2 separate regions of the Homo sapiens genome follow, and region 1 is linked to region 2. Evidence: fine-mapped expression QTL. A gene starts in region 2. The other region holds a variant in brackets. All regions are shown on one strand. Distances are between the middles of the regions.

Region 1 (2,798 bases), 48 kb after region 2:
AGCGCGAGAGCGCCCGAGGAGACCAGGAGAGAAGGTGGAGAGGCGGCAAGGCTCCCCAGGCTAAGGGAAGGCAAAGCGGAGTGGGGCGAGGAAGGGGCGGGGTGGCTCCTTCTGGAGGCCACAGAACAGCCTGGGACTCCCTGAGGCGACACCGGCCGCAGGCACCAGGCACTGGGGGCTAAGAGAAACCCCGAGACCCAGAAATCTCCTTCCTAAGGTCCAACTTGCCCCAAAAGTTGTTTTTTCTTTTTTTTTTTTCACTACTTGAGGTAAACACATACACAATTTTACAAAAAGCGCCATCACTTGTCCACAATCAGAGGACTCATTCGTCAGCTTCTATACAATCTGCGCTTGGTTTCTCCTTCTCAGTAAGCACTCAGGCAGTTCCACCACACGCTATTGTCTCCACAGGAAAGAAGAAGACAGAGGCAAAGAGAAAGAGCAGGAGAGGGAGAAACAGATTGGCCCCTAGGAATGGGGAAAGGAGGCTGAAAGAAATGGCCAACATGAGGGTGGAACTTCATATTTTAGATGTCTGACTCCCAGTTTCTGCTTCCTCCATCCCAAGTAACTGAAGTGAGATAAAAGAAAAGAACAGAGTCATTTTCACACATCCTTTCTCAAAATTCACTCTTATTTATAAGACCTTTTGGCCTTGACTCCTGGTGAGAAATGAGGGTCCCAACATTCAAACCTATTTATGAAAAGCAAATATTTTCATTTACTGAGGACCCACAGAAAGAGAGCACTTTTTATACAAAGAGGCTTTTATAGCTTCCTGTTGTTAGGGCCCTGAGTTCAAGTCCACATTCTGCCACACACTGTGGGATTCTCATAACCTCCCAATCTCACTGGACCCCAATTCCTCCCCTTTTAACCCGGGGATAACATGCTTGTGGGAGGATACAAATCGGATACTGTATGTAAAATGCTTACCTCAGTACCTGGTATGTAATAAGCACTCCATGAACGTTAGCTGCTTTTCCTATCTAGTCAACATTTCCTAACAGCACAATTAACAGAGCCGAAATTAATGATCCTGCATATTTTTCATTGTGGTGATCATGGTCCTGTGTTTGAGGTATTGAGCAACAGGGCTCAGGACATTTGAGCTTTTTACTAACATCAGTGCCTCCTCATCAATTCAAAACTAAATAAAGTCATGCTTTGCCTAACAAAGTTACAAATCCAGGCAGCATAATCCCTTCTCTCAAGGAGCTTGCTCTCCAATAATAGGGGACAAAATATGTCCACATAAACACACATCTGATGTTTGTGCCTGGTGGAAGAGATCATGAGCACTAGCGGAGAAGAGAAATTTGTCTCCCATAATGGGAAAATGAACACACAATAGTTTATACTTAGAGATGGATATTATCACCTCAGCTCTCCTCCCTAGTAACAGAATTTAGTTTAAGCTGTTTAGAATGGTGAGGGTTTATGTTGCAATATCCACATTCTCTAAACTCACATGACAAGTGACCCCCAAAGCACACAGCATTTGGTAATTGAG[A/G]AAAACAAAGGAATGATTCTATCTGTGCTGAATTGGCTAATTCATTGACTTGCCTCAGGGCAGAGGGCTGGCCCTGGCAGTTTGCTAGAGTGATCCTTCTGCTCTGAATTCGAGCCTGGTCCCTCACAGGGACTGCCCCACATAGCCGGCAAGGGCAGACACCCTGGCTGGCACTATCCTGTCCTTGTAGGAGAGATCTAAATTGGGTTGAGCCTGTTGGCAGATAAGCAAAATGAAACCCATTCGGATATTTTGTCTTGAAAGGCATTTGTTTTCATTCCTTCTCTTTCTTCTTCTGCTTTTCCCCCTCATACTAGGATCTAAAAAACTCAGGCTCCTTGGGGACCAAAGCCAACATTATCATCATCTACTCAGAGGCACGCAAACAGTGAAGGCAGAGACGCAAATTCTGAGTGCACTGCATTTGTAGCTTTCACATCTACATGTGGTCCCAATTTAGGATCACAAGCAGAGTTGTTTATTTTAGAAAAGCTTTTTAGTTAACTTTTAAGGTATTTTGCTTAAGCATTGCTTGCTTTCCAAAAGGAGAAAACGTGTATTTTTTTTTTTTTCTGAAGCGGTGTTTGTTTTGGCTGTTTACTCATTTGCAAAAGTTCAAATTTTATCCTATGAATTTAACTAATTTTTCTGTAGTCACCACAAACCCCACCCCCTCTAACACATACACACAAAACCCCAAAATAAAATAATCTGGAAGTGAAGCATTTTTAGGAGAGGTGTGAATTTAGCAGGTTTTGAAAAAGCCGTTTCAAATAGGTAATTTGCAATAGCACTTTTAGCTCCTTCATGTAACTTTTATTTGCCGTCTGAAATGAAGTCTCAACTTGGCAATTTGTATGAAGGCTAAGCATGTCTTTATACTAAGGTTAAGGCTCATGTTTGTCCTTTAAAAACTTTATTTTATAATTCTTGCTGAAATTATATGGCTTAGCTGAGGGTCAGAGTGGAGCTTAAGTTGAGGTATCAGTTATTATTGAAAAAATAACGGGATATAGAACTGTGGTGGTGGTGGTTGGGATTCGGTGAGGATATGGACACAAAACTGTGAAAAAGTAAAAATATGGACTTGGGCTCTCTAGCATCTGGTTCCATATACAGGCCTACCGCCTCCAATTATCTAAAGCTCCCACTTCATCTTCCTTTCTGAAACTACACTTACTTATGACATCATTTGTCCAGAACCTGAGCCCCACCTCTCTGTTCTCAATGACATAGCAGGTCCTATGTATCATTCCTTTGGGTAAGCTTCTCTACTAACATG
Region 2 (2,798 bases):
AGGGATGAAAGAGGACTCCTCACCCTAGAATGGGGTTATCTTAACCTCTTCTACGCTATTTATTTAACTTGTGTGTACAGCCAGAAGGAAGCCACTACTCTGGGGTCCCTGGGACAGCTTAAAACCCTAGTGACCCACTTAACACAATAGATTGTTTTAATCAGTTCGTGTCCTGGCACCATCTCGAAGGGGAACATAAACAGACGCGCACACCGCTCAGATTTGCTCTTTCCAGCAGGAGATCCAATTACCTATCGGTGGTCACCTCTCTGCCCTCGGACCGTTTAAGAGGGGGATTTTAACCCCTAACGCTGAGGCTGTATTTCTGTCTATAAGAGCCGAGATTCGGAGTCGGTCGAGGAGGGGAAGGCAGTAGACGGATTCGACCCGGGAATGCATTAGGGACAGCTCCGGGCGCGCAGGAATTTCTTCACAGCAGAGGCTGGTCACCTGCCGTCCGTCCCTCCCCGCCTGGCCCGGTGACCGTCGCCAGAGCCTGGCGCAGGCAAATAAACGCCAAGCTGGGGCACCCCCAAGGAGGAGCTGCGATCCGAAGGCAATGCCAAGCGAGAGCGGTGGCGCGTCTGTTCTTCCGGAGTCTGTAGTCTACAAATAACTCCGGCCAGCAAGGAGGTGACAGCCCCAATATACCTCCCACTCCCCTGCTATGGCCTTGCTCCGCAAGCTGTGGAGGGGCCAGCGGAGCCAGCCAGGCAGCGAGAGAGAACGAAAGACGCCCAGCTCGTTGCAGCCGCCAACCCGCCTCAGCCGCCAGTCCCTAGTCCTCAGGAGCTAGTGAGGCGCTGCAAGGCGAGGCTGGGGCCTCTAGAACACAGTTTAAGGGGTGCGCGCGGAAGTGGGAACCAGCCGGTGGCCGCTGCCCGGCGCCAGAACGTCTACCATTCAGCCCGGGCGTGCGCGGGGCGGGGAAGAGGCTGGAGTAGAGAAGCGAGCGCCCGCGAGTGCGTGGCCGGTCCGCGAGCGCGTGTGGTGTCTGCCTTGTGAGCACTGCGGGTTCGCTGGACCCCGCGGCCAGGGCCGCGCCCCGCACCGCAGCTGTCGGATTACCCACCGTTCGGTTTTCCGCTGTGGCTGAACACAGCGGCTCTGCCCTTGCCAGTCTCCATCTCACCTCGGGGATCGGCAAATGCACACATCATGGATTCTCCGGATGCTCCAACCCGCGGACTCCAATGGGCGCCCCAAGACGCCCCCAGACCCAGCGCGGCGCCCCAAGCACATGGGACCCTCTCAAGGCAACTCGCCGCGCAGTCAGCGGCCGACTAGCAGGTCCGGATGCTCCTGCGCTCTGGCGGCCTGGACTTCGCGCCCTCGCTAAGCGGGCGCGTCTGCCAGGCGCTGCTGCCACCAGCACCAGGAGCGTGTTCGGGGGCCTCCGGGAGGTGGAAACGGGATGTGGGGGTCATCCTGCCCGCTCCTGACAACTTTTTTTCCTACGTTTCCCTGCAGACCCAGAGCAGCGAGGTCACGGTGTCCGCGGCCTCAGCAGGAAGGACCCCGCGATGGTTCTTCACAATTCACCCCCGCGAACAACGCACCCGAGCCTGCGCGCACGGAGGGCTGCCGCGCGTGGAACTGAGCGGGTCCTGGGTTGGTTTGCGGCCCTCTTCCCTCCGCCCACTCACATCCCTGCCGGGTGCGTCCGCGCTCACCTGTCAGTGCGGCGGGTCCTCGGGGCCTGCGCTTTCGACGCGTGGCGCTGAGTGCGGCCGCGGCCAGAGCCGCCGGGGCTCGGCGCGGGGTCAGCGGGACCGAGAGTGACGCGGCGGCCGTGCACTGGGTCGCCCGGTCCGCGGAAGGCGCACCGAGTGCCAGGCATCGCGCCGTCTCCCGTTTAAATGCCGGCGGCAGAGCGCGGCGCCCGGGGCCGCGCCTCTCCATTGGCCAGGCGCCGCCGCCGCCGCCAGACCCGCTATCCGCCCCCTTTCCCGGTACTGCCCCCGCCCCCCGCACCCCTCCTGCTTCCCCGCGGGGTCCCCTCTCCGCCCGCCTCGCCTCTTTGTCTGCTCCCCCCGCCCGGGCCGGCTGGGAGAGGTCACCCCAGGGAACCGCGCCTGGAATGCACAGCAAATCACATTTTCCGCTCCCGTTGGAGAGGGAAGAGCGGGAGGAAATCCCCCCGGCTGGCGGCCCCTCATTCCTTCTCTGCCCCAGGTCTGGGCTTTCCCTGTCGGCCGCCCGGCATCGCCTGCGTTGGTCCCGCGCTCAGTAGCGGAGACTGCGCTGGGAAGAGCGAGATCTCCGTGGGATCGTGCCAGATTCGGCCATTCTTCCCCTCTGGAGGGAACGGGACTGCGGGATGCTCTGGTCGAGCGGCCGTCGTGGCTCCCCGGCGGCCCCGCCCGAGGCCCCCAACTTCGAGGGCGCTGACCCCGGCGCCCCCGTTAACCTGGCGGGCTCGCTGGCCGCCAGCAGGAGCCTGTCGCCAACATGACACCCTGCTCTCCTCGCCCGCCAAGGGTTCTTTCAGCCCAGATGCCGGCGGCCTCCCCTGTGAGTGTACAGAGGGGAGTCACGGGAGGAGAATAAAACTAAATGACCGTCAAAAGTCAAGGCTTCTGTTCCTAAATTATCTTAAGAGACAGAGAGAAAACAGCCACTGGGCGAGAGGGGTTTTCTGTAGCATATCAAAGACGAATAAGTCAGGAAAATAAAACGTTAGATGAGGAAGTAACTTCCCAGAAATTTAGGACAAAAACCTACCGACGTGTAAAACCAATGTCACATTCCGGATACCAAGTACATAAATAGTTTTCGAAAGATGAGCGAACACTTTC

Which allele goes with the higher level. Alleles are on the strand shown, and positions count from the first base shown. SD is a standard deviation of normalised expression in the study named.
For the expression in prefrontal cortex of the gene that starts at base 1,831 in region 2, allele A in region 1 goes with a lower level than allele G (moderate effect, 0.41 SD a copy in ROSMAP).

Evidence for each region. PIP is the estimated chance that this variant, and not a neighbour inherited with it, causes the effect.
Region 1: its variant is the best candidate, but not a certain one, in a credible set for the expression of GREM1 in prefrontal cortex (BrainSeq, PIP 0.63).

The regions. Positions count from the first base shown.
Region 1 is chr15:32,669,160-32,671,957 of GRCh38, reverse strand. The region is part of intron 10 of ARHGAP11A-SCG5 (ARHGAP11A-SCG5 readthrough); the gene reads right to left. The region is part of intron 2 of SCG5 (secretogranin V); the gene reads right to left. The region is part of intron 1 of SCG5-AS1 (SCG5 antisense RNA 1); the gene reads left to right. Among named protein-coding and RNA genes, the nearest start is that of SCG5-AS1, 2.5 kb to the left of the region's middle. RefSeq lists an enhancer at 1,244-1,776. The variant A/G (reference allele first, on the strand shown) is at 1,517.
Region 2 is chr15:32,717,037-32,719,834 of GRCh38, reverse strand. GREM1 (gremlin 1, DAN family BMP antagonist) reads right to left here and starts at 1,831. Exons shown (of 2, transcript NM_013372.7): 1 at 1,674-1,831. It overlaps GREM1-AS1 (GREM1 antisense RNA 1), which reads left to right and starts at 970. Exons shown (of 2, transcript NR_109767.1): 1 at 970-1,290; 2 at 1,471-1,734. RefSeq lists enhancers at 531-1,108, 1,109-1,687, 1,825-2,325.